3 separate regions of the Homo sapiens genome follow, and regions 2 and 3 are each linked to region 1. Evidence: fine-mapped expression QTL. A gene starts in region 1. Each other region holds a variant in brackets. All regions are shown on one strand. Distances are from middle to middle.

What was found. PIP is the estimated chance that this variant, and not a neighbour inherited with it, causes the effect. A credible set is the group of variants that fine-mapping cannot tell apart.
Region 2: its variant is the best candidate, but not a certain one, in a credible set for the expression of ENPP1 in pancreas (GTEx, PIP 0.83).
Region 3: its variant is the best candidate, but not a certain one, in a credible set for the expression of ENPP1 in fibroblasts (GTEx, PIP 0.68).

What each region holds. Positions count from the first base shown.
Region 1 is chr6:131,802,814-131,813,562 of GRCh38, reverse strand. It overlaps ENPP1 (ectonucleotide pyrophosphatase/phosphodiesterase 1), which reads right to left and starts at 5,543. Exons shown (of 25, transcript NM_006208.3): 1 at 5,288-5,543. The coding sequence starts at 5,527.
Region 2 is chr6:131,880,569-131,891,317 of GRCh38, reverse strand. ENPP1 (ectonucleotide pyrophosphatase/phosphodiesterase 1) reads right to left here. Exons shown (of 25, transcript NM_006208.3): 21 at 8,844-8,973; 22 at 7,544-7,624; 23 at 6,255-6,387; 24 at 4,594-4,756; 25 at 1-977. The coding sequence ends at 807. Among named protein-coding and RNA genes, the nearest start is that of CCN2-AS1, 16 kb to the left of the region's middle. The variant G/AGAG (reference allele first, on the strand shown) is at 4,494.
Region 3 is chr6:131,738,299-131,749,047 of GRCh38, reverse strand. ENPP3 (ectonucleotide pyrophosphatase/phosphodiesterase 3) reads right to left here. Exons shown (of 25, transcript NM_005021.5): 24 at 8,668-8,824; 25 at 1,638-2,262. The coding sequence ends at 2,092. Among named protein-coding and RNA genes, the nearest start is that of CTAGE9, 33 kb to the right of the region's middle. The variant T/C (reference allele first, on the strand shown) is at 5,330.

The DNA.
Region 1 (10,749 bases):
ATGCTTAACTTACAACATCCCTTTTTTTTTTTTGAGACAGAGTCTTGCTCTGTCACCTAGGCTGGAGTGTAATGGTGCAATCTCGGCTCACTGCAACCTCCGCCTCCCAGGTTCAAGCGATTCTCCTGCCTCAGCCTCCCAAGTGGTTGGCACTACAGGCATGTACTACCATGCCCTGCTAATTTTTTTTGTATTTTTACAAAAAAAGAGGTTTCACCCTTTTTTTGAAGGGGTTTCACCATGTTGGTCATTCTGGTCTTGAACTCCTGACCTCAAATGATCCCACCTGCCTCAGCCTCCCAAAGTGCTGGGATTACAGGCATGAGCCATCACACACAGCCACAACAGCCCTTTCTGTTGATTCCAAGTTTTAGACAGAGCCTTACTCCTTTAATCAATTGCAAATTAAAGAATCTCCGAATCACCGGGCAAAGTGGCTCACGCCTATAATCATAGCACTTTGGGAGGCTGAGGTGGGTGAAATTCCTGAGCTCAGGAGTTCAAGACCAGCCTGGGCAACAAAGTGAAACCCTGTCTCTACTAAAATACAAAAAAATTAGCCAGGAGTGGTGGTGTGTGCCTGTAATCCCAGCTACTTGGGAGGCTGAGACAGAAGAATCGCTTGAACCCAGGAGCGGGAGGTTGCAGTGGGCCGAGATTGTGCTATTGCACTCTAGCCTGGGCAACAGAGCAAGACTGTCTCAAAAAAAAAATCTCTGAATATGCTGAATAAATAACCTGTAAGCCCTTGCTTTAAGATATCCCACCTTTTCATATGGAATCAATGTATACCTTTCATGTACTGATTTATGTCTTTGCCAGTAACTCCTGCCTCCCTGAAATATATAAAAACACACAGTAATCCAACTGCCTCAGGTGCACATTCTCAGGACTCCTTGAGAAAGTGTTTCCCCGAGCCACAGTCACTCATCTTGGCTCAGGATAAAGCTCTTTAAAATATTTTACAGAGTTTGGTTTTTCCATTAACAAGGTGATACTCTTCACTATTGTCAAGGCCTTATAAGTTTCTCACTGAAAATTCTAAATTAATTAAGGATTCTTTTAACAGCAAGCTCTTAGGAGACAAAAACATCAAAGATCATGGTCTCCAACCTGGAAGATTTTGTTTAATAGAAAATACCATCAAATAAAGGACTCCTAGCCACGTTAGAAGGGCCAATATCAGGCTACCCTGCCTAAGTGGACATCTTCCTCAGTGGAGATCTTCAACACTTTGTTCTTTAGACCAGGACAAGAAGTGGATTAAAATATTCATTTGGTTACCTTCAGGAATAGGAACACTTTTCATATTTGTATTTCAAGTTGTTTTGTTGATAATTGTCCTTATTTGTGTCATCCTTTTGATTCTTAAATTGATTATGCTTTGTATTTCTAGATGTCTAAAGTCTACCACAAAATTCTATAACAAAAAACTCATCATAATAGCTAGATGCTTAGAAATGACCCAACATACCTCAACTCCAGTGTAAGTGAATGACCTGAAATCCCGCTGCTCTGTCCCCTTATTTTTCAATCCAATCCCTGAATTGTTGCCTACCAATTCAGCCTTGGAACCTCACTAAGTTTTTAAGTGATAGTACTTCTGCCCATCTCATTCCCTCTGACATGGGACAAGACTATCCGGAAATGAGCCTTCCCAGCAATGTGGGACAAACTTACATCCAAAACGTTGATCATCAGTATTTTAAGAAGAGAAAGATTTTTATTAAAAGGAGGAAATGAGAAAGAAAAATTGCTCAGAGCAGTCTGAGATATGCGAACTATGCAAAATTTATCAGGCCCAGAGGGACATGAGCATGGGACTTCAGTCACATCACTGCACCCATTCCCAGGGGCAATTCTTTAAAAGCATTTTGTTCCTGACAGCTGCCTCACCCACTATCTTCATGTTCCTGGAATGTGTGATACAAAGAACAATGTATAGCCAACCAATAGCTCGTTATTGTAACATGAATGCTTGATAAACAACTTAGGAACTGCCTCTTCCTTTTTCCTTTAAAAACCCATTTGTAACTGCTGCTAATAGGAGCATCTACTCAGGGCAACTTGAATCTATGCTCCTGGGTTGCAGTCCTCAAACTTGAGCCAAACGGACTCTCTACATATATATAGATATAGATATAGATATAGATATAGATATAGATATAGATATAGATATAGATATATAGATATAGATATAGATATATGTTTTTTTAAAGAACTCTTTCACTGAAACATGAAAGTAGTCTTCAGTGACCACCACCCATACGCAAGCCCTTTACACATACACAGATACACAGATATATGTATTCATAAGTATAGCAGAAGGTCACAAACAACACAAAAAAAATGCTTTTGAGGAGCTAACTGGAGAAATGTATTGCAATGTAGTTGAGAATTACATGACTGTAAAATCACACCAAGAAACAAGAAGGATATTTAAATACATCTCCAAGTCAACACATCTCGGTGGAAGTCTACACTTCAGTTCAAAACTTCATTTACAACCAAGGAAAGGCATCTAATATTTAACATACCTACTGACACATGTAGAGAATAATACTTGTTTTTCCCTCTTGCTGTTTTCCTCAGTTTGGCTCAGTACCTAGGCACAAGCATTCCAGGGCCCAGGGCCAAAAGCCTCTAAAGCACAGCTTGGTGGCCCTCTCCTAAGATCAACCACCACAATGGGGAGAAGCCAGGGTAGGACAGAATCCTCACTCCTTCATCCACTCTCACACATCTACATCATTTTAGTTTATCTGAGAAAACTGCAGAGTAATGTAAAAATTACATTGCCACTGCAACATGATTGCCTCTGAAAGGCAAGGCAACGCAACTCTTCTATTTATCCTGCTAAATTAAAACAGTGTAGCTGAGGATCATAGTGCTGGGCCTCTCCTAATCCCAACCCCAGGTTGCAATTAGTTCAATCTGTTTCTGCAGCTTTATGAAAAGTGTGCTGAGGTTTAATCTGAAAACAAAAGGAATTCTATAATTGCAGCTCCTTTCTAGAAGACATATCCCAGAGCTCTTTGACGACAATTGTCAGGATGCTTTTGGGGCCTTTTCCATTTGGAAGCCCATTATTTGGGGAAGTTTTTGGGGGGGGGGCGGGGTTGGGGGAAAAAGGTATTGAAGTAGGGAAGGGAAAGAAGAATACGAGTTTGCACTTTCAGTTCAGTAGCTAAATAGCAATTTCAACAATAAAGGGTCTCACCGTGTCACCCAAGCTGAAGTGCAGTGGCACAATCACAGTTCACTGCAGCCTTAACTTTCCCTGGCTCAGCTGAACCTCCCATGTCAGCCTCCCAAGTAGCTGGGACATAGACGCATGCTACCATACCCAGCTAATTTTTGTATCTTTTGTAGAGATGGGTTTCATCATGTTGCCCAGGCTGGTCTCAAACTCCTGGGCTCAAGCAATGGAACCGCCTCAACTTCCCAAAGTGCTGAGATAATAGGTATGAGTCACCGCACCAGGTCTATTTGGTAACATTTGTATGTTAATGTCTCACAGTGTTCCATCAAAAGATATGAAGTAAGAATTCTTTCCAATTCAATAGATGCAAAAGACCCCAATTAATGGATAAAAAAGGTCCATAATAGTCCTACTTGTGGAAGTAAGTCCTAGGACACTTCCATGTCAAATGCCCAGAGTAGCATCATCACACAGAATGCTGTTTGACCAGTTGACTGCAGGTCTCAAAGACTGGACAGCTTATTCCAAAACTAGACCTTTGCTGATATCTGTTGTGGATGTATAAGTAAATGAGCAAGAAAAATTTAAAACCTGAATTTTGCAATTGGAAAACCTGTAAAGGTTTATAGGCATGTAGAAATGGTTTTACACAAGAGTTACACACTGATTCCATATACAATTATCGACTACCTCATCGTGTGTGAAACACCTCAAGGTATTAATACTAAACAATTTAAGTGATCAGGTTGTAAAAGCTAAGGTCTTCCATTAACAAAATTTTTAAAAGGTGACTCAAGAGACTAAGTTCTCATCAATATTGTGTTATTATAGACTCAAAACAGTGTTACAAGATGCAAAATTTTATCTTGAGATGCAAACATCATGTGGCTTGGGGTACTTATTCTGTGAAACTAAGGCTTCTTTTTAAGTACTAAGCATACGGCACCATCTCTTAAGTCTAGGAAGATTGATTCCTCAAAGTATTATAGCATCTCCATGATGTCCCAAATATAGTGAAAATGGAAATGCATACAAAATGAAAGGAGACTTGAAAAATTAGAAATTTTTCTACAAAGCATTATTCAATCATATGTAAGGGGATATATTTTAGGGTACACTATACATAGAAATCTGTGATTTCCATATAATACAATAAAAATGATTCTATTTCCTTGCTGTTTTCAATTTACTTCCCTACCTACATTCTTCAGCTTGATTTTCACAATAATCCCATGCAATGCACAAGGGAGTTGATGTTGTCCCATTTTCACACATTAGAAATTGAGGTTTAGGGACAGTTACGCAAGGCCTCAGCAAATAATAACAGCCAGGAATCCAGGCCTTCTCTCAATCAGCACTTCCCACCATGAATTCAGAATAAAAACCAACCCCCACATTTCATGAAGTTGACTGTGGGTCCTGCAAATGTCATAGCAAAATAGCAGAGGAGTAATAGGTAGCTTTTGTTAGCAACACAAACCGTGTAGCCTCTGGTTAGAAGAGTGGGCAAAGAATCATAAAGGTTTCTTCAGTCACATAATGTGAACATCCATGGAATTTCTGAGCACCTGCAAGGAAATTCCAAAACGGAGCGAAAGGGAAAAAGTGTTCCGTAGAGTTCCTAATAAAACTTAAAGAGCTCCGCTAACTCTTCAACTGCAATCAGTTAACCCAAGTGAAGTCATGTATACTGCGCCCAGAGCCCCCTAAAAGAAGCAACACATTGATGCACCTTCTTAAGACCAACAACTTTCGCGTTTGACATTTTTCTCCTCTAAAAACCCGTACTCTCCTGGGGCAGGGGGTCGAGTATTTCTAAGGATGACCGTTTTGAACAGCCTGCTTTCACAGGCATCCATAATTCAAGTGAGAGTGAACCATCCTGCCCTGGCAAGGTACCTGGCAGGGGCGGCTGTGTAGGGCACTTGCAAAGGCTGCGGAGGAGAGCGCGCGGGCGAAGAAGCACTCCCGGACCATGCCTCTCTCCGGTGCCCGGTGCTGACTGCGCTGAGAGCGCAGGAGCTCGGCGCCGCCCTCCCCGTACTCCCAGCCCTCCCGGGCGCCGGGGCCTGGCCGCGGACCTACCAGCGAGAGTACTTTATAGGTGTTGGGGTCCTTGGCAGTGCGGGCGCGCGCCGCCTTCTCCAGCGGCTCCTCCCCCACGTCCATAGGGGCCAGCAAGGACGCGGCCGCCTGCGGGTCCCCGGGCGCCTCGGCAGCGTGGCTGCGGCCCCGATCGCGGCCGTTCCCCGCCGGGCCCTCCCGGGGAGCGCGCCCGCCCTCGCCGCCGCGGCTCCCGCCCCCCGCGCAGCCGTCGCGCTCCATCGTGGCCCCGGCCGCTCCGGCCCCGCTGCCCGGCCGCGCCTTTAATAGGCCCCGCGCCGCCCGCCCCGCCCCGCCCCTCCCCGCCGCGCCCGCCCCTCGCGGTCAGATCCTTGGCTCCCCGCCCTACACCCGGCTCTCGCAGTCAGGGCAAAGCGACTCAACGCCCCGGATTATTTGGCTTCCTGTCTGATTTCGGGCACTCTGTGTGTCGGTTATTTTGGGTCCCTTACGTGGGCGTGTCTTAAACTTCCCCCCAAGCCGTCCCCTCCCCGCGCCCCGGCCACCCTCCCGACACTTGCAGGAATCGCCCTGCGTGGCCTCGCGGCGCGGGCTGGGCTGGAATTGCAGCGTGTGGTCTGCAGAGGGCATGAGATCATGGGGCCCCAAAATAGAGCGGGGAGGAGGAGAAGGATGCAGCCGCCGATGCCGGTCCGGCTTCTCAAAGGCGGGAGAGAGTGGAGTCTTGGGGTCGACCTGTGAGTTTCTGGATGGAAATGCAAATGAACCATGGAGGAAGGCGACTTTCTGTTTCTCCCCCTCTGCGCCCCGTCCCCCACTACCTACGGTACTCTGAGAGAGAAATCGTCCACTTAAAATACGTGGGTTCACATGTACTGAACACACGTAAGGGATATTTCGATTCCCACGGTTTTATGTGGTTTCTGGAGTCTTCTCGCTATTGTTTGTATGTATATTTGCTTATTTTTCTAGACTTTCTGTATTGAAGGTTTCAGGAGTTGGCGTTGCCCTCTCCTGAGGTTGACACTGATACCTAGCTATATCAAAAGTGTTAATGCAATCTGAAATACTTTGATAAGCCTTATTTTTCAACTAGGACGCTAACAGTGAGCTGATTCTTGGTGGGTTTTGTTTTACCTTTGATTCTGGAACTTGTACATTTTCTGGCTCATCACTTAGCAAAATCACCAGTGTGTAGTGAAGTGAGACAGAGGGAAACCAGTGACTTCGAACTACTTTGCAATACCCAGGACTGACTTCAGGTACCAAGGAAAACAATTAATTTTCAATACATTTTGAATACATGAATATATACAAGTGTTTACAAATGAGAATGAATGTTTAACAAATATAAAATGCATGTTATCCCTTTAAAATAGTCAACTTGGGATGCTCTTCATTTATACTGACTCATCCATCCACCCATCCATTTATTCATCAAGTAATGAATCCTTCAACTCAATCTTTTGGCCTCCAACTATGCATACCATATAAAAAATGAATTAAAATGTATCTTTCCTTAAGTGTGGTGGAAGCGGGGGTGGGGGGGTAGGACCAACTCGTAAACAAAATAATTAAAACCTAAGTCATATATGCAGAATAGAGTCACACATAGGATATTGATACAGGAGATAGAAATTATTTAGGCAGATAGTATGAGCAAAAGAGCCCTCGGCAGAACTTACCTTCTAACAAAAAGCAGCCCAAGAAATCACTTCCTTTCTAACAAAGAGCAACCTGGAAGATTGGGCTGCAAACATAGGTAAGGAAACTGGAAGCTTGCACGGGAGATGCCGGCAGCGGCACAGACAGAAGGGGCTACTGGGGCCAGGCATGTCCACCATGGGGGTTCCACCTCCCCTCTTTTTTACCACATGCACAGTAAGAAGGAAATAAGCAACACGGAGTAGCTACCTGCCTATATAGTAGAAGATTGGGGCCGGGGCTGCCAGACACTTAAGCCCTATGCAGATGACACACCTGGTCCTAACCGGGTTTTCATGCCATATGCACGAAACCGGGTTTTCCCTCCTTATGTAGATCAGACACCGCCTCCCCACTAGCTCATCTATAAAAACCCCTGCATTTCACCACGTATTGCAACCCATTTTTTGGGACCCCTCTCTGTAGCAGAGCTATTCTCCTCCTTTTGCCTATTAAAAATTCTGCTCCAAACCTCACCCTTTGTGTGTGTCCACATATTTGATCTTTGTGGCCGTGAGACCAAGAACCTCGGATGTCACCATAGACAACAAAGCTACTTCAATATTATGAGAGCTTAGTAGAAAGGACAGTTGACATCTGGAAGAAGTAAAAGCCTTCCCTCAAAGCATTATTGAACTTTTTTAAAAAGTTACCTTTGAGTCAGCTCACAAACCACCCAAGAGAAACAGGTTTTCACTGTTTCATAATCACACATATTTTTCTGCCCCAAACTTGGCTCCAAATTTTCCTTTGACTCTTTCCAAAAATCAGATTCAAGGACAAAGATTTGCTCCACTGAGACTGGTCAAATGAGTGTCAAAACCTCTAAAAGCAACTCAACAGAGACATTATCCAAAGTGCCTTTAAACCTGACAAAACAAATGGAAGAAGTGTATTGTCTGCATCTCAAGGCAACGAACCACTTTAAAGACTTAACATTTGGAAAACACAGTGTGCAGTCTCCAGGGTCACAAACATCTTAAGGCCTAGGGAAAGCATTTTTCTGTGGCATTAATTTATTTTTAAGATTTTGTATGACATCCTGGTTTTTCTTTCTTTTTTTTGAAAGCACAATATGCCATGAACCATATTTGACTGAGGCAGCCCTATACACACTGCAAAAGGCAAACCATGTGCCATGTTAAAGGTTGCAGCATCTATTCAACAGGATTGTGTGCCCAGTGTGGGCAGATGGTCAGATTTTTCAAGAGAAGCAGGAAATTTAAATGTTTGTGTGAATTCTCCGGTTGCAAAATGTTGTCTACAAAATTCAGAGAAACAGTTTCTTCAAACAAACAAAATGTAGCACGTTTAAAAGCCAAACAAAATGTAGCACATCTGCAGGACAGACCTGGCACACACGTCACCAGGATGTGGCCTCTGCCTAATGCTCATGCCTCATCTGTGCCAGGTGGGACTTAATATGGGTAATTATAAAAACCCAATTGGAAGTCTAAAATCGGAAGAATAAAAATGAGCCAAGGCCGGGCACGGTGGCTCACGCCTGTAATCTCAGCATTTTGGGAGGCTGACGCGGGTGGTTCACTTGAGGTCAGGTGTCTGAGACCAACCTGGCCAACATGATGAAAACCAGTCTCCACTAAAAATACAAAAATTAGCAGGGCATGGTGGCACATGCCTGTAGTCCCAGCTACTCTGGAGGCTGAGGCAGGAGAATTGCTTGAACCTGGGAGGCGGAGGTTGCAGTGAGCCAAGATCATGCCACTGCACTCCAGCATGGGCAACAGAGAAAGACTCTGTCTCAAAAAAAAAAAAAAAAAAATGAGTCAGATATGCCATTTTCAGGTTTAGCTATAGACATTGCAAAGCCTATAGTGAAATATTGCCTCAGTCTTCTTTATTCTAAATGATCTGAGGGACAGCTTCACCATCACATTCCAAAGTACAATAAGGTCATGAGATATAAAACCACAACACAATTTTTGGGTTAATGCAAAGGTGAACAATGAATGTTTCATCCTTAATCCTAAATCACTCTGTTTTAGTGATTGCATACTCTAATCTGGAATAGCAGTAAAGATGATAATTTAAGATTTTGTGTAAGTTTTCTATTAAGTTTTATTGTAACATAAATATTTAGACATTTCTGTCTTGGTGCTTGAAGCTTTGGTTGTAGATAAGGCCAAAACACCAAACAAAAACAATTTATCAATGTTTAATTATTACTTTGAAATATTACTTTGAAACAACTTTTCTTAGTGATTAAAAAATGAAATATGCTGTAGGGTAATTATTTTAGCAGCTGTTTCAGAGCTTTTCCAGCTTTCTTCTAATTCGCCAGTAAAACAAGAAAGACATCTAGCCAAATCTAAACAGAAAAAAAACCCACAAGCCTCTTTAATCTTTGTGAGGCCTAGGGAAAACATTTTTCTGTGGCATTAATTTATTTTTAAGAATGTGTATGACATCCTGATTTTTCTTTCTTTTTTTGAAAGCACAAAAATATGTCCCCTGGAGCAAGAAGCTTGGATAACTATGTGACCTTGAACAGATTACCAGAAGCCTCTGAGCCTTAGTTTCCTTATTTGTAAAATGCTCTTTCAGATAATATCTCTAAATGCCAACAAAATGTTTGACATTTCAACTTTACACAAACATTTAAATCTATCATTTGCATTTGTAAATCAACCACTCACTACCCCTAAGGGAGAGAATAAAAAGATTTAATTTTCTCCTATATTATGCATGGTTTATATATAATCTCTGGGAAGGTTTGAGACCTGTTATTGGGCCTGCATCTACAAAGAGGGTAAGGAAAGGATTCTTGCTGCTCTGGGATGAAGGAGAGATGCCTACAGGGATCAGTTAGGTAACAAAACGAATAGAGAGAATTCAGAAGTGTAAGATCCAAAGGAGAGTAATAGAACCTGGGAAAATGGAAAACGCATGTACCATCCAAAGAGAGTGTGGGGTTCTAATTAGGGAAAAGGAGTCAGGATGGCGGGACCGAGGGAAAGCAAAAATATAAAGCAGATAAGCTGTAAGTCTGCCTTGCTTTGTGGTCCAGAACATGTAGCCCTCTTGCACAAATAACTCACAATCTTCCTGCACTCAGCTATCATCAGACCCTCGGGTGATTAAAAAAAAATGCAAGCTAATTCACTGCAACCTCGGTGTTATCAGTACTGCACAAAGCCCTCTTCAGCACACAGCACAAGCACCATTCTAGAACATCCCCAGCAAGCCTTCGTCTCCTTGCAGTCAGCTCCTCTCTTGCTGGCCTGCCCATTGTTCCCTTGCAACACATTTTCATACGTGCTCTAATAAATATGACTTTCTTTACCTACAAGTATCTTCATAAATTCTTTTTACCCCCACACCACTGGCCCCAGATTGTCGCTGATTACCTGCTACAGGAAGTTGGTTTCTAGTCCTTCACTTTTTGTTAACCACGGTATCTGCCACTCCTTCATTATCTCTTACACTTCTATTTCAAACAAAATGTAGGGTTGCCAGGTAACCTGAATTTTAAGTTTGATTAAAGTACAATTTACCTATTATCATATCTACCCATTATATGCATACAGTTCAGTGATTTTTAATAATTTATACAGTTGTGCAACTATTAATATGATCCAGTTTTGGAACAATTTCATCACTTCAAAAAGTTTGTTTCTGCACATGTATAATCAAAAACTCCCATTCCAGTCCCAACCAAAGACTTCTCTGCTTTCTGTCTGTAGCTTTGCCTTTTCTAGAAAATTCATTTAAATGGTATTATACTAAGTTGTCTTTTGTGTCTGTCTTCTTTCACTTAG
Region 2 (10,749 bases), 78 kb before region 1:
TTTTGCCAAGATAAGGTACAATTTTAACCGTCTATAGGGCCACATTTGAAGCCATTTTAAACCTATGTTAATTACCAGTGAGCAGGATAGGAATATTTTTCTTTTTTAAATACAAATACAAAGTAAGATTTTATAATAGGTAAGTATATTCAAAGATCGTCCCTCAAAGTTGAACTCATTTGAACCATTAAATCTAAAGAAATCCAATCAAAAAATTAAAAAGAAAACACATAAGATTAATAACTTGGATTTTGAGGGGATATACAGCAAAGATTGAAACAAGGTCTCAGAAGTATTTTGGCTTCTGTTAATTTTTTTTTTGATTACAATGAAAAGAAATGAAACTCCAAGTTAAAAGATATCCAGAACCACTTTAAAATTCTCATAAAGATAGTCACATAACATGGGCTACCCCAACCCTACTATAAGTCTACTGTTTGCCCAATGCCATCAAGGTTTATTACCAATAGTAAGAAAGATTCAAATATCTGGTATCCAGACAATGTTCACAGCTACTTCTCCTTTAAGAGAAGCAGAAAGGCAGTTTTAGGTGTGGTCTGTCTTTATTCCCCCGAACTTGATCAATGTATACAATGCTTACACATTCAAATATGTGCAAGATTCAACAGGAACACTCTCCACTGCTGTGCTGAGTACGCAAGTTTCCCTGAGATGTCCGCATCACCGAGGGCTCCGTTCTAACTCTGGTCGACAGTTTCTGAACAATGCAATAGTGTAGCTAGAGGACTATATAAAATATAAGGTTCTCTCAAAAAGATTCATGGTGTTTGGGGATAAAAAACATATCAGTCTTCTTGGCTAAAGGTTGGCAAATGTGTTTTCAACTTTAAAATGTCTGAAACTGGCTCTTTTCTTTGTTGATAGAAGCTGAGTCCAGTGATGTGCTCAACATCTGTGATCCGTGCTCTGTGTAACATTAACAATTCTTCAACCCATGAGGAGTCATGCTTCCCATGCTAGGAGAATAGGAAATATAAAAGAAAAGTTACCAAGAGAACACTCAGTTCACTTCTATAAGTGCTCCATCTCCCCAGTTTAATCATTTACGAGATTTCAGCTCTGAAGTGGAACGTGCCACATGATTTGTTAGGCATCATCTCTCCTCTTGAGTAGCTTTCCTTCTAATACATACCATGCATGTTTGTTTAATTAGATGCTTCAAGTTTGGGGAAAAGAAACTATACCTGGAACAGATGGTCCTGCATTACATAGGTTTAAGAAACTTCAATGGCGTGGGGTTAAAAAAAGGGGGAAAACAGAAATTACATGGCATGGGAAAGAATATCTGAATAATGTAAAGAATCACTCAGAATGCCTATTATTAAAAAGTCAAAAAACAACAGACGCTAGCTAGTAAGGTTGTGGAGAAAAAGGAATGCTTTTACACTGTTGGTGGGAGTGTAAATTAGTGCAACCACTGTGGAAGACAGTGTGGCAATTCCTCAAAGACCTAGAGGCAGAAATACCACTGGACCCAGCAATCCCATTACTGGGTACATACCCACAGGAATATAAATCATTCTATTATACAGATACACGCACGCATATGTTCAGTGCAGCACTATTCACAATAGGAGAGACATGGAATCAACTTAAGTGCCCAACAATGATAGACTGGATCAAGAAAATGTGGTACATACACACCATGGAATACTATGGTGTATATGGTCAATGATAGACTAAATTAAGAAAATGTGGTACATGTATACCATGGAATACTATGCAGCCATAAAAGATCATGTCCTGTGCAGGGACATGGATGGAGCTGGAGGCCATTATCCTTAGCAAACTAATGCAGAAACAGAAAATCGAAACCTCATGTTCTCAATTATAAGAGGGAGCTGAAGGATGAGAACACATAAACACGTGTGGGGGAAGAAAATACACTGGGGCCTGTTGGAGGGCAGGGGGTGGGAGGAGGGAGAGCATCAGAAAGAATAGCTAATGGATGCTGGGCTTAATACCTGGGTGACGGGATGATCTGTGCAGCAAACCACCATGGCACACATTTACCTATGCAACAAACCTGCACATCCTGCACATGTACCCCTGAACTTAAAAGTTGAAAATTTTTTTAAAAGAGGCTGGTTCTGTGACAATCGTATCAGGTAAACTAAGGAAAGTTATTTAACATATAAGTCTTGATTCCTTTATCTGTATCCTCCTCATCGGGTTATTTTGAGGATCAAACGTAATGATGTGTGCAAATGTACTACACAAATACTAGTTTTTATGAGAATGTGTTACCTACAAAGATGCATGAAGAAGCCCACGTGGGCCAAAGCCACATGCTAAGAATGGTGGAGCAGAAAGAGGGAAAAGTTCTGGGTCCCTAATGGTGCAGTTGACCCAAAGCGCCATCCCAGGACTGTGTGCAGCTGGACTTGCTGTTCCATGAGGAATCCCTGACTTGCTTAAGCCACTGCAAAGGGGTTTCTGTTATTTGCTGCAGAACCCTACTCTAATTGATACATTCAATGACAATATAATCTCTCAAACGAAATAATGAAGCAGGGAATAGCTGCATGTTTCCAACAATGCCCACAAAACTGACAACTTTCAGTGGAGTCAGATAATCATCAGGCAACCAACTAAAATCTTGCTATTCTGTATTTAATTCTAAAGAATAAAGGGAAAAATAATGAGAAATGTGTTCTATAGGAACAAGTAATTCTGAAAGTTTATCATAGAAACAATTAAGGAGAGACATATCTTCATGAATTTTAACGATATATAGAAAGACTACTACCATCAGGGATGGCAAACGGATCATTGTATTCTACTCTTGGGCCCAGAGAAGAGCTCACTATTTTGTTCACTGCTGTGTCCTCAGTACCTAGAGCACCTGATTATAAATATCAAAGGAATGAATGGTGAATCAAAGTAGTAGTGAATGAATGAGTGGATACAGCACTCTTTCCTGCTGAGCTCATACTGGGTCTCAAGATCCTAACTCCAGGTACCTACCACCCATTCATTGGGACTGGTATGAAAGCTACATCTTTTTGCAGATTCAGGTTTAGACTTACTTGGTGTCACTTCAATGAAAAAAAAAAAAAAAGGAAATGTAGGAAGTACTCTGAAAGAAATATATTTTGGCTCACCATAAGAGAAAACTTAAAAATTGCTAAAATGGGCCGGGCACAGTGGCTCATGACTGTAACCCCCGCACTTTGGGAGGCTAAGGCCAGCAGATCACCTGAGGTCAGGAGGTAGAGAACAGCCTGGCCAACACGGCGAAACCCCATCTCCACTAAAAATACAAAAATTAGCTGGGCATGGGTGGCAGGTGCCTGTAATCCCAGCTATTCGGGAGGCTGAGGCAGGAGAATCGCTTGAGCCCGGGAAGCGGAGGTTGCAGGGAGCCGAGATCACGCCACTGCCTTCCAGCCTGGGTGACAGAGCAAGACTCCAAAAAAAAAAAAAAAAAAAGGCCAGGCACGGTGGCTCACGCCTGTAATCCCAGCATTTTGGAAGGACAAGGCGGGTGGATCACAAGGTCAGGAGATTGAGACCATCCTGGCTAACACGGTGAAACCCCATCTCTACTAAAAAAAAAAAAAAAAAAAAATTAGCCGGGTGTGGTGGCGGGCGCCTGTAGTCCCAGCTACTCGGGAGGCTGAGGCAGGAGAATGGCGTGAGCCCAGAAGGCGGAGCTTGCAGTGAGCCGAGATCATGCCACTGCACTCCAGCCTGGAAGCCAAAGTGAGACTCTGTCTCAAAAAAAAAAAAAAAAATTAGCTGGGTGTGGTGGCGGGCGCCTGTAGTCCCAGCTACTCGGGAGGCTGAGGCAGGAGAATGGTGTGAACCCAGAAGGCGGAGCTTGCGGTGAGCCGAGATCATGCCACTGCACTCCAGCCTGGGAGCCAAAGTGAGACTCTGTCTCAAAAAAAAAAAAAAAATTGCTAAAATGTTATGCAGTCTTGATGTCCCAATCTACAATGTAGATTTTTAAAATTCTGAGCAAATAAGATAATATAAAACAATTATTCCCAAACACACTGGGATGACAATACGATAAGAAAGGAAAAGATTTTTTATAATTAAGTGATACACAGAAAATTTGAAATGTTGTCTAACAACTTTAATTTATAACAGTGCTGACACTTTGAAATTATACATCCAGTTTTAAAAAAAGAGAAAATCCATACCTCAGATAAACCTAGACTTTAGTGGTTAAGCCATACAAAGTTTGATTCTGATCTGATTTTTAGTATCTTTACCAGACAAAGGGGCCAGGCAGGGTGGCTCACACCTGCAATCTCAGCACTTTGGGAGGCCAAGACAGGAGGATCATAAGAGGCCAGGAGTTCAAGACCAGCCTGGGCAACATAGAAAGACCCTATCTCTAAAAAAAAAAAAAAAAAAAAGAAAAAAGTAAAAGCAGACAAGGGTAGTCTTCCCCAAAGATATGTCATCTTAAAAGATCAAATTTAAAAGCATCCTATAATTTCGAAGTCCATGTGTACTCA[G/AGAG]TTGTGCTTTCTCTCACTGTAATGTCAGATGGGTGACATAAACAAATATGCATATGTCTAGATTTTCAACATGCAAAGTAAATATACAAAAGCTACTTACCACACAGCTCTCGCTGTTATCAGTCCTGTGAGGCAAAATGAAAGCTAAGGTGTCTAGGTTTTCACAGTGCAAAGGCGTCTGAGATGTATCTTTACAGCTTGTTAGCACAATAAAGAAGTGAGTTGGAATCAAAATTTCTTGGTTACGGATGACTCTTCTTTTTCTGTAAAACATGCCAATATTCATTTTAAGAAAGAAATAACTATCTTCCTTTTGATGAATATTTCAGTAGAGCATGCTTTTAATACATATAAAAATCAAATTCAAACAAATAATTAAATATAAGAAGCTAGTAATCACAATACCTCAACATACTCTGCCAGATTGAGAGCAATAATTAGAAGACAGGCAGATAAACACACTCCAAATAATTTTTATTTTCTGTAGAAGTTTATTGACTTTTAGAATTCTTTTAGTTCTACCTAAAGACATTGAAATTGAAACACTAAAGAAAAGAAAATGTCATTTTTGAACACCTATGACCAAGAGTGTAAACCATTATTGATAGTCTTAACTTCTAGGCGATTATAGACAAATAGTGGGCAGAGAAAGAACTGGTTAGGAATTTTCTATTCCAGCCCCTTCAGAGAGGACATGTTGTCATGAATTGTTTGTTCTAACTGGATTTTCTTCCTTAATAACTTAATTTTTTAAACTGAAGTATATTATCAAAGATGTCCCAAACATCTTTACCTCATAGTCATTCTCCTATTTTAAGGCTGTGTTTGTTTTTTCAACATCTTTCAAAATTTAAGGCAGTGGAATCATTGTTTTCAAATATGACCTTATGTAGAAACATAATCTATAAAACAGATTTAAACAGAGGGCTCTGGGTGAAGCCGTGGGTAGGAAGCATATGCAGTTCTCTTCTGTATCCTCTCCAGTGCTACAGCTTCTAAGGCAGCTTTATGCCTCAAGGGAAAGTAAAAAACTGTAACTTTGCAAATTGATGTGCTTTCTGATGTATTTTGTAAGTCACATATATCTAAGTCAGCCTGGGAGAGTAGGAAAGTTCTGAGAGGGGCTGAATCTCAGTGGAATCTCAGTCTTTTTCCTACGGACTTAACAGCAAAATTGCTTCCCAAACTGCTGTAATTATTGTTTCAATAAAGATCAACCAGTTTCCAAGATGTTCTTTCCCTCTCTTTTTTAAAAAAGCACCACTGATGGTTTCCTTCAGACGGTTGCTTTTTATCATGCCCCTCCAGCCACAGTTGGGTAAAAGCCATAACATTCACCCAAGGCCACCAGACTCCAAGCACTGCAGCTTTATAACCCTATTCATTCCTAGACTCAGGATATCTGTAGCCACACCATAGAGTTCTTCATCTTCTGACTCACAATATATTAAGATCATATCTTAACAATCAGCCACACAGAGATCTTAAATGAGTTCAGCATTTAAACTGAGTGCAAAAATTATTCAACTGAACTGAATGGGTGAGAAACACTACTTTTTTACCTAAAAATATTTTACTGAACATTGAGCAAAACATCAAAATTAATCAGATATTTCAAGAGGCTTCCTGTGTAGTCAGAAGTGTCATACACATAAACATACGACACTGGATAAAAAAGGTTCTGTTGACTCAACTGGATGGTAATCCCATTTCTACTGGATGGTAATTCCTATTTTTAAGAGTAATGAAATATGTTCTTACTGCCTCAGATTCTCTAAGGAATCACAACGTCCATCATAATCAAAGTCAAACACAGGACCACTGACGACATTGACACCATTTCTTTCTTCAGCATACTTTCGCAGTAGGGTGTCATGAAAGTAGCGCCATATAACTGAAACAAGATAGAAGCCAGTGTAGTTTCAAAAGAACAAGGGACCATGTTGACGTGTGAAATAAATTAACACCATGATTCAAAATTAGCATTTATAGTAAATAAAGATAAAGTCAAGTTTGGCTTCAGTCTTCGTTTTGTTTTGTTTTTTGTTTAGAGACAGAGTCGTGCTATATCACCCAGGCTGGAGTGCAGTGGCACAATCATAGCTCACTGCAGCCTCAAACTCCTGGGGTCAAGAGATGCTCCTGCCTCAGTCTCCAGAATAGCTAGGACTACAGGTGCACATCACCATGCCCAGCTAATTAAAATTTTTTGTAGAGACTAGACACCAGATCTCACTGTTTCCCAGGCTGATCTTGAACTCCTGGCCTCAAGCAGTCCTTCTGAGTTGGACTCCCCAAAGGGCTGGGACTGCAAGCATGAGCCACCACACCCAGCCTTGGCTCTAATCTTAGTGTGAGGCCAAAAATTCATTGTTCAGCTTTGGCCTTTGAAAGGACTCACAGACAAACGTTGAACCCAACTCTCTTTGAGACATCCCTGAACAAGTACATCATGTTGAAATTGTGATCATATGTCATCATTAAGCATAGCAACATCGCAAACACAAACAAGGCATATTATTCCGATTTCCTATTAATATCTGAATATTAACTTTGAAATATTCACAAGTATTCTAGATATAAATTAGACTAAAAACTCCTTATATGCTTATATTTTGATATTCTATACATCAATTTAAGTAACTAAATTTTTATTCCTGTAAAAGTCAAATGCTGCAATAGTTAATGATGATGTAAAATCTATTCATTTGAAAACATAGACAATTATCAAGAACTTCCAAAAAGTTAAATAAGGAAGCCGAATGAAAGTTAATATAAGTGTTAGCAGACTGTATTAGCTGGATAACTTTAGGAAGCGCATCACATACTTTCTCACCAAAACTGTTTGCAAACAATTATACAATTAGAATACATGATAATTCTAATAATTTGTAGAATTTTTGTGTACTAGTATTCTCAAAGTTAAACCTTTAAGAATGTATTTGGTATTAATTCATTTAATTTAGACCATAAGTCCTATTACATATGAATTATGCCTATATGTGCACAAATTCATTAAAATTATCAAATATAGAGTTAACATTATTTACCTTGAAAACTCTGGTACATTGGCACTATATTTGTAGTAAGCAAAGCTTCAGAATATATTCCACTTGAATTTTTATTTAGTTCTACAAAGAGAAAAGAGGACAACTTTTTCATTCTTCACAAATAACATAGGAAATTATAGTTTCTCATGGTTAGGGGAGCATTTTTAAAAATTAGCTGAGTACCATCTTAAACCTGTAAAACTTTCCCAAGTACAGGGTCAAGGGAAAATGTAATGTGTTTGGTCAAGTCCTTTACAAAAATAAAATATTTAAGAAGTCTTTTCAAGATGAGCATGTCAACGAAACATAAACTTTAATAACAAGAGCCCCAAATTAAACATATTCAAACGTTATTGCCCTCATTTCAACTAAAAGGAATTGTGTTGACAATCTTCTTTCCTTACACTTTTTCACAGTGAAAAGAAAAAAGAGAACATCTGGCTCCAGAACAACACCTGCTACCCAGAAAAAACATCACAGGATGTCTGTCTCGAAACACCATACAAGGCTTCTCTGTATGAATTTGAGGCTTGGACCTGGTCTATTTTTATAATGCAATAGCCAAGTTCTGACTTCAGACACATACTCTGGGAACTGAACTGGATGCTGACGGTAGTTGAGCACCTGGAGCTTTCTGATTTTTGCCTTTTAAGGCTGGCCCCAAAATGGCTTCTCATCAACATACAAATTTGCCATTTCAAAAAATAGAATACTTAGCTTCAAAAAAGCCATTCCCTAGAGATTCTGGATCAGTGAAAAAGCAAGCATATGTAAGCCTCTACCTTTACCTACTTCTCTGACAAACGCATTTTCTTTTTAAACAACAAAGTTATTTATCCTAACAAAGTTATCTTCCTAAGAACCTTGATATATTCTTCCAACTTGATATATATATTCCACCTTCACAATATTCTCAAATTGTTTAAAAGAAATGCAGAAAGGAACCATGAAGTGTTCTGCTTACCATATCTGCACTACATCAACTACCCTCCCAACAAAAAGAAAATTTTATAAAATTCAAGTTTTAGATGATTAAAATTTTTCCCTTGGTAGTTCTAGACCAAATCCACAATTTTTCACCAATAAATAAACAAAGCTATATATATATAGCTATATATATATAAAATAGTAATATATATACTTTATATATATTATATATATAATATATATATAAAATAGGTAATATTTATATATATATAATAGGTAATATATATATTACCCTATAATGTATGGTAGGATTTATAAACAAGAAAGAAAACAAAAAGGAGAAAAGGGAAGGTCAGGAGAGGAAAAAACTTACGTGGTGGGGAGAGGAACCCGTAACTCACTTTGGTGTTATTTTTATAAAATGAACATTTATGGACAGGACTAAGAGGAATTCTAAAGTCCTGGTACAGACAGTTGGAGAAGTCTTCCGTAGAGAAACTGTCCTGAAGAACGAAAATGAGAAGAACTCTCAGATATCAGGCACAGAGAAGAAAATTGCTTTATTAATATTTAAAGGTGAACTACATCATAAAATTATGAAGCTCTAGCTGTCAGCTCATGTCCTTCCCTATTTTCCTACTAGTATATTCATCTTTTTTTCTAACTAAAGTGTAAAAATGCTTTACAATATTAAAGATATTAATTGTCATATTTATGCAAATATTTTCAGATTCTGCTATGCTAATATGAAATAATGTTTAGAATGATTTTATCTACACAATTTTAAATATTTATTTATTTATTTATTTATTTATTATTATTATTTTTTTAAGATGGAGTCTCACTCTGTCACCCAGACTAGAGGGCAGCGGCGCAATCTCGGCTCACCGCAACTCTGCCCCCCAGGTTCAAGCGATTCTCCTGCCTCAGCTTCCCGAGTAGCTGGGACTACAGGCATCTGCCACCACGCCTGGCTAATTTTTGTGTTTTTGGTAGAGATGGGGTTTCACCATGTTGGCAAGGCTGGTCTTGAGCTCCTGACCTCAGGTGATCCATCCGCTGCAGCCCCCTCAAAGTGCTGGGATTACAGGTGTGACCCACCACGCCTGGCTAATTTTTTGTATTTTTAGTAGAGACAGGGTTTCACCATGTTAGCCAGGATGGTCTCGAACTCCTGACCTCGTGATCTGCCCTCCTCAGCCCCCCAAAGTGTTGGGATTACAGGCGTGAGCCACCGCGCTGGTCAATTTTAAGCTTTTATATAGTAAAATGTTGATTTTTAGAGATCTGAGTCTATCTTCCATAGTCAACTACACTGCCAAAAGTTGCTGGAGCAAAGGAGGACAGTCACCGAACAGCAATGTAAAAACCTCAAGCATCGCAATGACTGTAAAGTTATGCATTTTAATTACATAAGAAAACTGAAAATGGAATCAAGGAACCCATAATTAAGGTATAAATATTAATAAATAGGATGGGGTGCCTATGAAAAATGGTGTAGACTGATCAATTACAAAGTCAAAAATTTTTTTAAGTGTTTGGTGTTTGAAGACAGTATTGAAAAATTTTAAAAATCAAAGTTCAAGAAATTTTATATAAATATATGTGTGTATTATATATTTGTAACATAGAAATTATATATAAACAGACATATCCCTATCTTTTTATTTGGTTGTCTCACTGATTAGTAAAAATCATTTTATTTTTTAAATCAAACTGCTGCCCTCCACTATGCTCTCTCAAATCCCTTTGTCGTTCCCTTAGGGCATCCTGTACCTTGCCAGTCACTTTCAGTTTCAGCCCAGTTTAAAATTTCAATTCCACGTAAGATCAAAATCTCATCTTCCCCCTTCTCTCTTTCCAGCACCATCTCCTTCACCATTCCTCCTTCTACCAGAGCACCCAGGGGGCCATGGGTGAGGGGGAAGGCTGCTCTTATTCTGGGATATTTGCCCTCACTCCTTTCAAGGCCTAACTCCTCTGGTGTTGGTGGTGGGCAGGATTCTGGCCTCTCCCTGGTTTGGGCTCGTGTCTTCCTATAGATGGTACGTGCAATGATGTTACTGAGCTTTAATGGCTTTGCCAAACAGTGAGGGCCCCCTTAGATTTGGACAGCTGAGGGAAATACTTGTCCTCACACAGCCATGTATTTAGAAATGGGTAACTGTGACTGATCCTAAGGCTGATTTCATGCAATTATAAATTGGAATCATAAAATATTAAAACTGGGGTCGGGGAGGAAAAGAGAATTCTTTTCTTTCTTTCTTTCTTTTTTTTTT
Region 3 (10,749 bases), 65 kb after region 1:
ACATAGTTTTAATTTTTCTCTTTTTATTTTTATGTCAACAACTTAGCCACTTTCAGACCAACTCAGAAGTAATGAGGAAATCCAGGGTTATTAAACTCATTTCAGGGTTGTAAACACCCACCATTTGTCTTCCTATTGTGAGTTCTAAATTCCAGGTGATCTTATTTAGTTTCCAGGCCATGGTGGGGCAGGAGAACACTGATTGGAAAAATTGTCTCTATATGAAGAGTATTAACATTGTTGCTATGTATCCGGAAATAATTTCCTATTTGTGTCTTAACTTGCAGCCTCTCTGTATTGCACATTTTGCACTGCATAAATTTTTTACCTAAATTCTACATGTGAAGAAACTATGTTAAAAAAAATCCAGTGGGAATAAACTAACATCTTAATTGGTTGTAATTAATAACCATAATTCAGTTGAAATTCTAATAGAAATAGAAAGCAATTGAATTTGTTTTCCTTGAAGTTCAGGTCACAAGATTTTTCATTAGCTACAAAGCCTGTGTCCCTGGATGAACTGATCTTTATATCAGAGAAATATCTGGAAAATTGCCAGTCTAGCAACCCCAAAATCTGACCAATAGCATTGACCCTGAAATAATTGCTGGGATCTCTTTGGTTCATAACTCTATTTTGAAAATGAAAGAAATACATATAGGAGTTAAAAAAAAAAACTTCAGGCAATACAAAGAGCAAAAAATAAAAATGTTATCTTTTTTACTATTAATTTCTGCTTCCCCCAGCCCAGATTTTATTATATGAAACAGGGGCTGACAAACTACAGCCCAGGGACCCAATCTAGCCCTCCACTTGTTTTTGTAAATAAAGTTTTATTGGAACATAGGTGATATGGTTTGGCTCTGTGTCCCCACCTGAATCTCATCTCGAATTGTAATCCCCACATGCCGAGGGAGGGAAGTGTTTGGATCATGCGGGCAGTTTTTCCCATGCTGTTCTCGTAATAGTGAGTGAGTTCTCATGAGATCTGATTGTTTTATAAGTGTCTGGCATTTTATCTGCTCACACTCACTCTGTCCTGTCTCTGCTTAGACTCACTCCGTCCTGTCGCCTTGTGAAGAAAGTGCTTGCTTCCCCTTCTCCTTCTGCCATGATTGTAAGTTTCCTGAGGCTTCCCCAGCCATGCGAAACTGTGAATCAATTAAACCTCTTTTCTTTATAAACTACCCAGTCTCAGGTATTTCTTTATAGCCATGTGAAAGCAGACTAATAGAACAACCACTCTTACTCCTTTTTTGTATTATCTATGGCTGCTTTCTTGATGCCACAGCAGAGTAAGTAGTTTTAAGAGAGACTGTATGGCCTAAAAAATTTACCATCTAGTCCCTTATGGAAAAGTTTACCGACCCCTGAAAAATGACAGTAGACTACACACATTGTTCTACCACTTGCTTTCTCACTTAATAATAGTGATACATTCAAGATATATATAGATCTACTTCTGTCTTTATAGTGATGGAACAGTATTTGTTTAAACAGATTCCATAATTTGTTTAACCAGTCTTTTAGGTTGTTTTCTGGTTTTTGCTATCATAAAAGATGTCATTTTCATGCATTTGTGCCAAGCACATCTGTTGGGACAGTTTTTACAGGTGAAATTAACAGCGCAAAAGTTCTGTGCATTTTTAATTTTAATCAGCATTGCCAGTCAAATACAAAAAGTTTTGTGACAAAACTGATTTAGAGTTGATTCAGTTCCCAAGTGAGACATACTTCTTTTGTTCTCCCTTTTGTTTAGATAATTCTGGGCAGAAAAATATATTCAAAGATTCTGAGTAAGATAAAACAAGTAATAAGGAAGGTATAATCTGTCATGAGATTAGAGTTTAAGAAACCAACAAAAAAGGGAAGGTGTAATATAGCATCATCTCTGTGTGAAAAATATAACTTTAAAATAATACATATTCATAGAATTGAAAAAAGAGAAAAAGGAATAATAAAAATTATGGCTTTTAGGGGACTTAAGGAAAAATAGAAAACTTTATTTTACAATTCTCCAGAAAAAAATCACTTATATTTTGCCAAAATTACTTTATACAGTAAATTATATATTAAGTAGACATTATTAAGTTAAATAGTGGTTTCAAATGTTGGTAAATATGTCTTTAGTTGCAAAATTTCAGAGACAGGCTGCACTTTATCCTGATAGAAGTCAAGCCCAGTGAGAAGTTCTACATCACGGACCCGGGCAATGTGAGCTGTAAATCTTTCTTCAACCCAAAGAGCTTCTGGTTTACCTTCCTGAAAAAGAAAAGCACAACACTTTTTTTTTCACAAGGCAGTATTTTTCATGAACAGAAATATTTTTATTGCTTAGAAGTTGTCTTTTTGCCGATGATTTTTACCTCCTTAAATCTTAATTTGATACAGCTAAATTTAGTTTTTAAAAATAAAAAGAAAACACAAGTACAAAGTATACTATAACTAACATAGAACACCGTTGTCAAAATTTATCTATTTTTATGTTTACTTCAGATGTAATTTTTTTAATGAAATTAAATATTGCAGATGAAGTTAAGTCCCCAGGGCTCCTCTGTTCAGAACTAAACATCTTTATATCAGGGTGAATCCAGTCTGTTTTTTCAAACTTTTACTGTACATCACTATACAATATGTAGTACTGATGAGTTTTTAAACTTATGTTAATATTATAAGTGGTATTCTACAATTTTTTTCATTCGGTATTAACGTTTGTAATCTATAGTGATATATCTAGGTCTTGTTAAGTGACTTGTTCTTAGCTGTGGTTTGTGATATTTCCTCATTTAAATGCAAAACAATTAAATTTTGCGTTACATATTGATAAAATTTTTGTTACTATAAATAATGCTATAATAAATAACTTGGTATATGCCTCCTGTGTTCAAGAGCATGAGTTTCTAGGATATATTAATAAAATTGTTGGGCCATAGAGTACATTCAAATTTTTTTTTTTTTGACATTGTCACTCTGTCACCCAGGCTGGAGTGCAATGGTGTGATCTTGGCTCACTGCACTCCAGCCTCAGCCTCCCAAGTAGCTGGGATTACAGGCACCCGCCGCCACACCCAGCTAATTTTTTAATATTTTTAGTAGAGATGGGGTTTCACCATGTTGGCCAGGGTGGTCTTAAACTCCTGATCTCGGGTGATCCACCCACCTTGGCCTCCCAAAGTGCTGGGATTATAGGCATGAGCCACCGCACCCGGCCGAGTACATTCAATTTTAACTTTATCAGATATTAAACCTAGCACTCCTCAAAGTCTTCGTACCAATTTACAGTTCTATAGGCAGTGAAAGATAATTCCCATTTCCCCACATCTTTGCCAAACCGTGGGTGTAAAATAGTGTTTTATGTCTGTTTATATTTTATTATGCTGACTATTGTTTATTTATGCATCTTTTCAGTTATTTCTTGACCTTTTTATTTTGGATTTTTTTTACAATATGAAAGTTAGTTCAATAATTTAGAAACATGGGTTTCTATGACATTCTTTATTCTTTATTATAAAGAATAATTTTCTGGTATTCATATGATATTGCTAAAGTTCAGTTAACTTTTCACATAATAAGAAAGTTTCAAAGTTTATTTAATCAGATTACTGTGTTTTCATGATTCTCATTTGACTTCGATGCAGTGGTTTACTTGTTTAAGTATGCAGGCTTAATACAGATAGCCACTATCTGAGCCAGAGGAAGAGTAAGAGGAAATACTTTTTGTTCCTAACCATTAAAGCACTTGTGTCAGATTCACAATGCGAGCTAATATTAAAAAAAAAAAAATGCGCCATGTTAGAGTTATTTCTTTCAATGGGAATCTAATTAGAAGTTTTTCTCTTCTGCCTTTACTATTGCACATTTCAGCAGCACCTAATATCTTTGATCACTTTTTTTTCCATAACATTTTCTCCCATTTGGTTTATACGACTCTACTCTCTCCTGACTTACTTGGCATCCATCCAACTAAATGTTTACCCAGCACCTGACAGTCTTCCCTTTTTTAAATTTGCAGGGAAATGACCACAAAGCATAACACAAAACTATACTTATGCAGAGACGATACTTCAGCTATTTAACCTGAGTAAGTCGCTGGCACCAACTAATCTGAACAGAAGCCAGCTGTAGACAACTGCTCTCGCTGCACTAGTCCATGCCAACAGAATAGGCTATACAGTTTTATGAGCTATATTTAAATATACTTTGATATTTATATGTGTGTGTGTGTGTGTGTGTGTGTGTGTGTGTATAAATGACCTGTTACAGAATTAAGAGTATTGTATATCCCCAAAATACAACTCATTTTTTGAGGCAATATTGATTTCAGCATTTTTCTGCCCTATCCACGTTCTTATTCTCTCTCCTTAGCCACTTACAGTCCAGTGATTGCTGTTATCATGCTAATGCAACTACTTTGTCAATGATGACCTCACTGAATGGGTTGTCCTCAGGCTTTTCAATTAGTTAGCTACCCCAGGCTTCTGAAGTTCCTCCTTTGTTATCCATAACTCTACTGTTTACTTGTTTGATAATACCTTCTGTTTCCTCAGATGACTATACTTCCTGGAAGCATATTTTCCTCAATTTGATTTGGGATCTTTTCTTTCCACTTTCTCCCCTTTGGCAATTGTATTTCACACCAATGATTTAATCCCAAATCTAGATCTGCAGTTCTGATTTCTCCTCCAAGTTCCATACCTACATTTTCCATATCTGCTGAGTAACTTACAATGAAAGTCACTTGGACTAATGGCTACATTCTCATTTATCTGACAGAATTTTACAGTACAAAGATGACAGGAGGAGGGAAAAGGAAAAAGGAGGGAAGAAAAGATGAAAGGAACAAGGAAAGGACAAAATAAATAAGGAAATATGATCTAATTCCTTACACCAAGTGTGGGATAAAATTGTGAATCTATCATTCCTATAGCTTGATCTCAGTTCCCTGGAACCTCTTAATAGTAGGAGTACTTCTGTACATTGTGTAATTCAAATATTTAAAGTACAGAGTTTCCATACAATGCAATGTTTAAAGCCAGCCATCTATTTTATCAGGTGCATCAAAGCACAATTACCTATCCAAATGCTATTGGAAATATTGGCTGGTTTAGACTTACTAAGAAACAGTTTGTGAATGTACTACACTTTCTGGATGATTTGCATATAGGAGATTCAATTTCACTCTCTATTGACTTTATTTTATTTTATTTTATTTTATTTTATTTTGAGACAGAGTCTTGTTCTGTTGCCCAGGCTGGAGTGCAGTGGCCTGATCTCCACTCACTGCAACTTCTACTTCCCAGTTTCAAGAAATTCTCCTGCCTCAGCCTCC[T/C]GAGTAGCTGGGATGACAGGCATGCACCATCACACCTGGCTAATTTTTGTATTTTTAGTATAGATGGGGTCTCTAGTAAAAGGCTGGTCTCGACCTCCTGACCTCAGGTGATGTGCCTGCCTCGGCCTCCCAAAGTGCTGTGATTACAGGTGAGCCACTATGCCTGGCCTCTGTCGACTTTAGAATGTAACTTCATCCTAAGATATGATTCCTTTATAATAGCCACCATTTTTTATATTGGGAAGTCTTAGGGTTTTATATAGATTATTTTGTTTAATCTTTACAAACTTCATAAAAGGAGGTGAATATTTTATACTTATTAGATATAATAGATGAGGAAACTAACATATTTGCCCAAAGAAACGAAGTCATTCACTGAACCCAGGAGGTCCAACTCCAAAATCCATGCATTTAAGTTCTGTTTTATACTATTTCTCATATATCCTCCTAAATATTCAACTAGTCTGTCAAACTGAAGACCACCAAGAGCAAATCCATCCTTCTCAAAACAAAAGATAATCTATCGTATACATTTCCTGGTCAGTCATGCCCTGGATTTTTAGTCATCTTTGCCTCTCTCTCATCTTGCCTTTCCCTTCCCCATATCTAATTGACAGCTACTCTTATTAACTTTGCAATCTCTTTTATAATCATAGCTTGGCTTAAGTTTTCTTTATACTCATTGCATTTTGTCTAATAATTATCTATACAGATGTCACATTCTTATTACTATACTGCAAATTCCTCAAAATCTTGGATATGTCCAATTTATTACTGATGATGTCCTATTCAATAGAGATGATGCTCTGTTAACTTTGGAGAGATCACTTCTACTTTGAATAATCAAGGAAAGCTTCATATTATTTGCACTTTACCTTGACGCCCAGATGGAATTTTTAGCAGATGGAAAAGAATGAAATTCTAGAGGAGAGAAGAACATAGGCAACAGTGATGAGGTAAGCAAACTCAAGATGTGTTCAAGTAATTTCAAGGACTCCAATTGACCTGGAACTTATAGCCTGTAAGGTCAACTGAGGGTAAATTGTGAAGAGACTTAAGTACAGGCTGGAAGTTGTTTTTGTTTGTTTCTTTGTATTTTTGTTGTTGTTGTTGTTGTTGTTCAGGATAATCAGAAGTTTTGGGGTGAGAGGCTATGACAAAATATAAACTAAATTTTAAGATGAGTAAGTTGGTAGTAGTGCACACTGACAAATGAGAAGAGGAGAGGAGACCACAAATCTACTTAAGATTCATTTTCAAGAGTCCTAATAGAAGGTCAAAAGGGCCCAGACCAGGGATAGCAAATATTTTTTTCTTTGTGTACTCATTGTAATCACTCCATCATATCTACCTAGAACCTCTGTAATAACGAACTGTTTAATCCAGATTTCATGGTAAAGAGTACCACATCGTATCAGTCATTGATGTCTGTCATTGGAAAAGGAAGTAAAGAATAATGGCTTACCCTTGTCTCAACCAAACAAAATGCTGACAGAAAAAGTAGGAAGGGATTCAATTCAACAACATCTCCTGATAGTTTCCTGTTCAGAAACTCTTCTTCCTCATTTTAAGAATAGTGAGTGGCTCACTATTCAGCCTCTAAACTTGGCCACCTTCTTTAGACAATTTAAACACTCAAGTAAAATCGTATCTACATGACCCAACTGAAATGTCACCCTCCCTGTCAAGAAGTAATTCTCCTTTGAAATACTACTACAGCAGTTTATCTGTCCCTCTCTTACATCACTTATCTCTTTCTTCTAATATTTTACTGGATTTCTAATTGTGAGCACCTCCTATAGTGCACAGCATGGTGAAGGCACTCATGCATTGAACACCTGAAAGAATATAGATGAATCCCAATCTGGCCTAGATCCCAAGCTTCAATTCTCAGGCTCTAATTGCCTATGGGACTTTCCACATCAATGCCCATTTCCACAAACTTAAAATGCCTATCCTTAGCTTATCCTATCTACCTGCCAAAAAGTTCTCATTCCCAACCTTCCTCTTTCTGCCTTTTTCCTAATTACTAACATTCAAATCTGATTCATCTTTGAGTTTCCTTTTGGGGTGGGGGCTCTTGTATCCAATCAGTTACTAAATCCTCTTCATTCTTCATACCCACCCTCCATGGAAGACTCTTTGTAGTCTTCTCAATATACTCAAATTCTATCCATCTTTCAGGGCACAGCCCTACTTACACCTTATTTTATGAAATCTTTATTGATCATTCCAGCCAAATGTGATTTTAATTTCAAATATTAAATCCTTTTAACATTAATTGTCAATTGATCCCAACTTTGCAACCTCTTTTACTTTTTAGTTTTTAGAATAATTCTTGTATTATTGACTGACTAAATTGTGTGCCTATATCTCATATATAAACTGAAGTTGTATATGAACTCTTTAAAAGCAGGGACAATGTGTTCCTCCTTTGTGCATTCTAAAGAGTTTCTATCATGATACTATGTGCTTAATAGGTACTCAATATGTTTGTTGAATGACTTCAGTAAAACCTAAGTTCCAGGATACATATTTTTTCTATAAGGAATTTATATGCAAGTCGAATTAACTACTTACATATAATCTGCCTTGATCCAAAAAGGATTTTGAGGTAGCCTAATAATGATGTTTAAAAAAAGAATGTTACTTGCACTGTGTGTGTGTGTTTGTGTGTGTGTGTGTATAATCAATTTCACACCTCATGGTTCAAGTTGATGGAATTTTTACATGTATATACTCATTCAGAAACATTAATTTAGTGCTAACATTGGGAAGAACTTTAAGATTTGTGGCCAGAATAAAAATAAGTTCTGGTGGTTCTATTACACAGTAGAGTGGCTGCAGTTAATAACAATGTATTGTATATTTCAAGATAGCTAGAAGAGAGGACTTTGAGTGCTATTACCACAAAGAAATAAATGTTTAAAGTGGTAGATATGTTAATTATCCTGATTTGATCATTATACAAAGTATGCACGCATTCAAACATCTCACTATCCTCATAAATACATACAATTGTCATGTTATAAATAAAAAAAGAAAAAAGAGATTAACAAGATTTCACCTCTTTCATTATTAGTGAATGTGAATAAAACGTATATAAATAAAATACATGGGGTATATATATGTTCAACTATGCAGATATATGTTTAAATTGATATTAATTACATAGAGATCAATAGCCTAAGGAAAAGCCTAAAAATGAAGTCATTTGTGTTATAACTTTTCCCATGAAACACCTAAAAAAAATGTTTTAGTCAGAGCCACTTTTATGAGAACCCAAATGAGCTCTGACTCATTTTCTCGGGTCCTGGACCCTCCCAAAGCATACTCACAGGACAGCTCTCCACGTTGGTAGGTCGGTGAGGGATGATAAAGGGTAGGACATCCAGCCACCCAGGGCAGTTTTCCGGTGTGTGGCTCTTGTTTTTACAACTGGTCAGCACCACAAAGTAGTGTGTTGGGATGGGAACATCAGTGTTGGCTAAATGTCTTACAAACATAATTGAAAACATGTTTTGATGTTATTATACTTTTGTTTCTAAAGGTGATAAGTGTGTTTACATAGTTTTTTTCATATACATGTAAAATAATAATTCTTATAATTCTAAGTTTGACAGCATTTTACTATATGCTAGGTACTTTTTAAATAACTTACATACAAAGTTTTAAGTGCAAAATCTGACTCCACCAAAGGAATACAAGCTGGTATAAATATGTAAATATATATATGAAAAACACTATGTAAAGACACACACACATATATATATATATTTACTTCTAATGGTACTTTGGATTTTTTTTTTTAATAGAGATGGGTTCTCACTTTGTTGCCCAAGCTGGTCTTAAACTCCTGGGCTCAAATGATCCTCCCACCTCGGCCTCTCAACGTGTTGGCATGACAGGCGTGAGCCACTGCACCAGGCCAATAAATGTCTTTATATAGTTTTAAAGAAATGCCAAAGTAAAAATATAGTAAAAGAAAGTAATAAATAAAAAGCACAAGGTCTTACATATTTTTTGCTCCCATCAGCCAGAATAGAGATTACAGTAGAAGTCCAAGCTTGGTCATTCTAACATGAAAAAATGTTAGAATACAAAAAAAAAAAAAAAAAAAAAAAAGCAGAGCATGATATTCTGCCTCCTGCATTTCCTCGTTTTGTTGACTTCATACTTCACAGTAGTGTTTACTAATACAGCAGAAGCTGAGAATGAAGGAGCCCAGATTCCACCTCCAGCCGTGCACTTCCACAAAATGTTTGGACTTTCATTCACCCTCTAATTCTGTCATTTACCGAGTTTCGAGTTTCCTCAGCTTTCCAAGGAAGTGATTCTGTGCTATCAACTTCACAGTGTAGACATGGGGATAAATCCATACAACTGATGTGACAGTACTTCGGTTTCAGATAACGAACATGAAAGTGCTTTCAAAAGTTTTAAGTGCAAAGTCTGACTCCACCAAAGGAATACAAGCTGGTATAAATAGAAATGTATTACTGTGATTTAGAACATGGACTCAGAGCCAGGCTGTCTGGGTTCATATTCTGGCTTTACCACTTATTAGTTGCAGAATTTAGATAAGTTGTTTAACCCCAGTTTCCTTAACTCTAACTGGGGGCTAATGGAACCTAACTAGGGTATCTTTGCAGTTTAACTGATGTATATGTGAGTTCTTTATAAAGTACCTAGCATATAGAAAATGCTGTCAAAGTTTGAATTATTAGAATTAATAAATTGTGAAAGGTAGAGTCAATACTGAAATATTGATTCAGTATTCATTCAACACTGAAATAAGGACATGGTGAACAAAATAGAAAAAGGCCACACACTTGGTAGTCATAAATGTTACTTTATCAGAAGGTATAGGTAGAAATCATTGCTTTACATAATCTAGGCTTAGACAGTACAATTGTTTAGTTTGGTCCTTCATATGTTTTGATAATAAAGAGAAATGGTAGATGAAACTTCTCTAAAACTCTATTACTGTGCTCTGCATTCAAAACTAATTCTTAGCAACCTGTTATGACCAGGCTTAATACTAAAATGTACAGTTTAGTTAGGACTAGTTCTCTGCATGAAATTTACCTACATTGTCTCCTGGGAAGTGCTTTTATGAACTGTTCACTATTCTTGTAAAATTTACCTTAGTCTTTACTTGACTTTTCACTATTCTTGTAAAATTTACCTTAGCCTTTACTCGACTTTTTTTTCATTTACTGTTGGATTGGTTTTATACTCATTGATAGTACATCAAGTTTTGTCTACCTCCTTAGCCTTTACAAAATTTCATGTTATCTTTGCCCATTAATTCAGCAATTTTCCAAATAAAATTTTGCTAAACTTTTCCAGGAAGTGTTTTCTTTGCCCATTAGTTTAAATTTTTTGCAATATAAGCTTTCCTAAATATTTAGATAGAC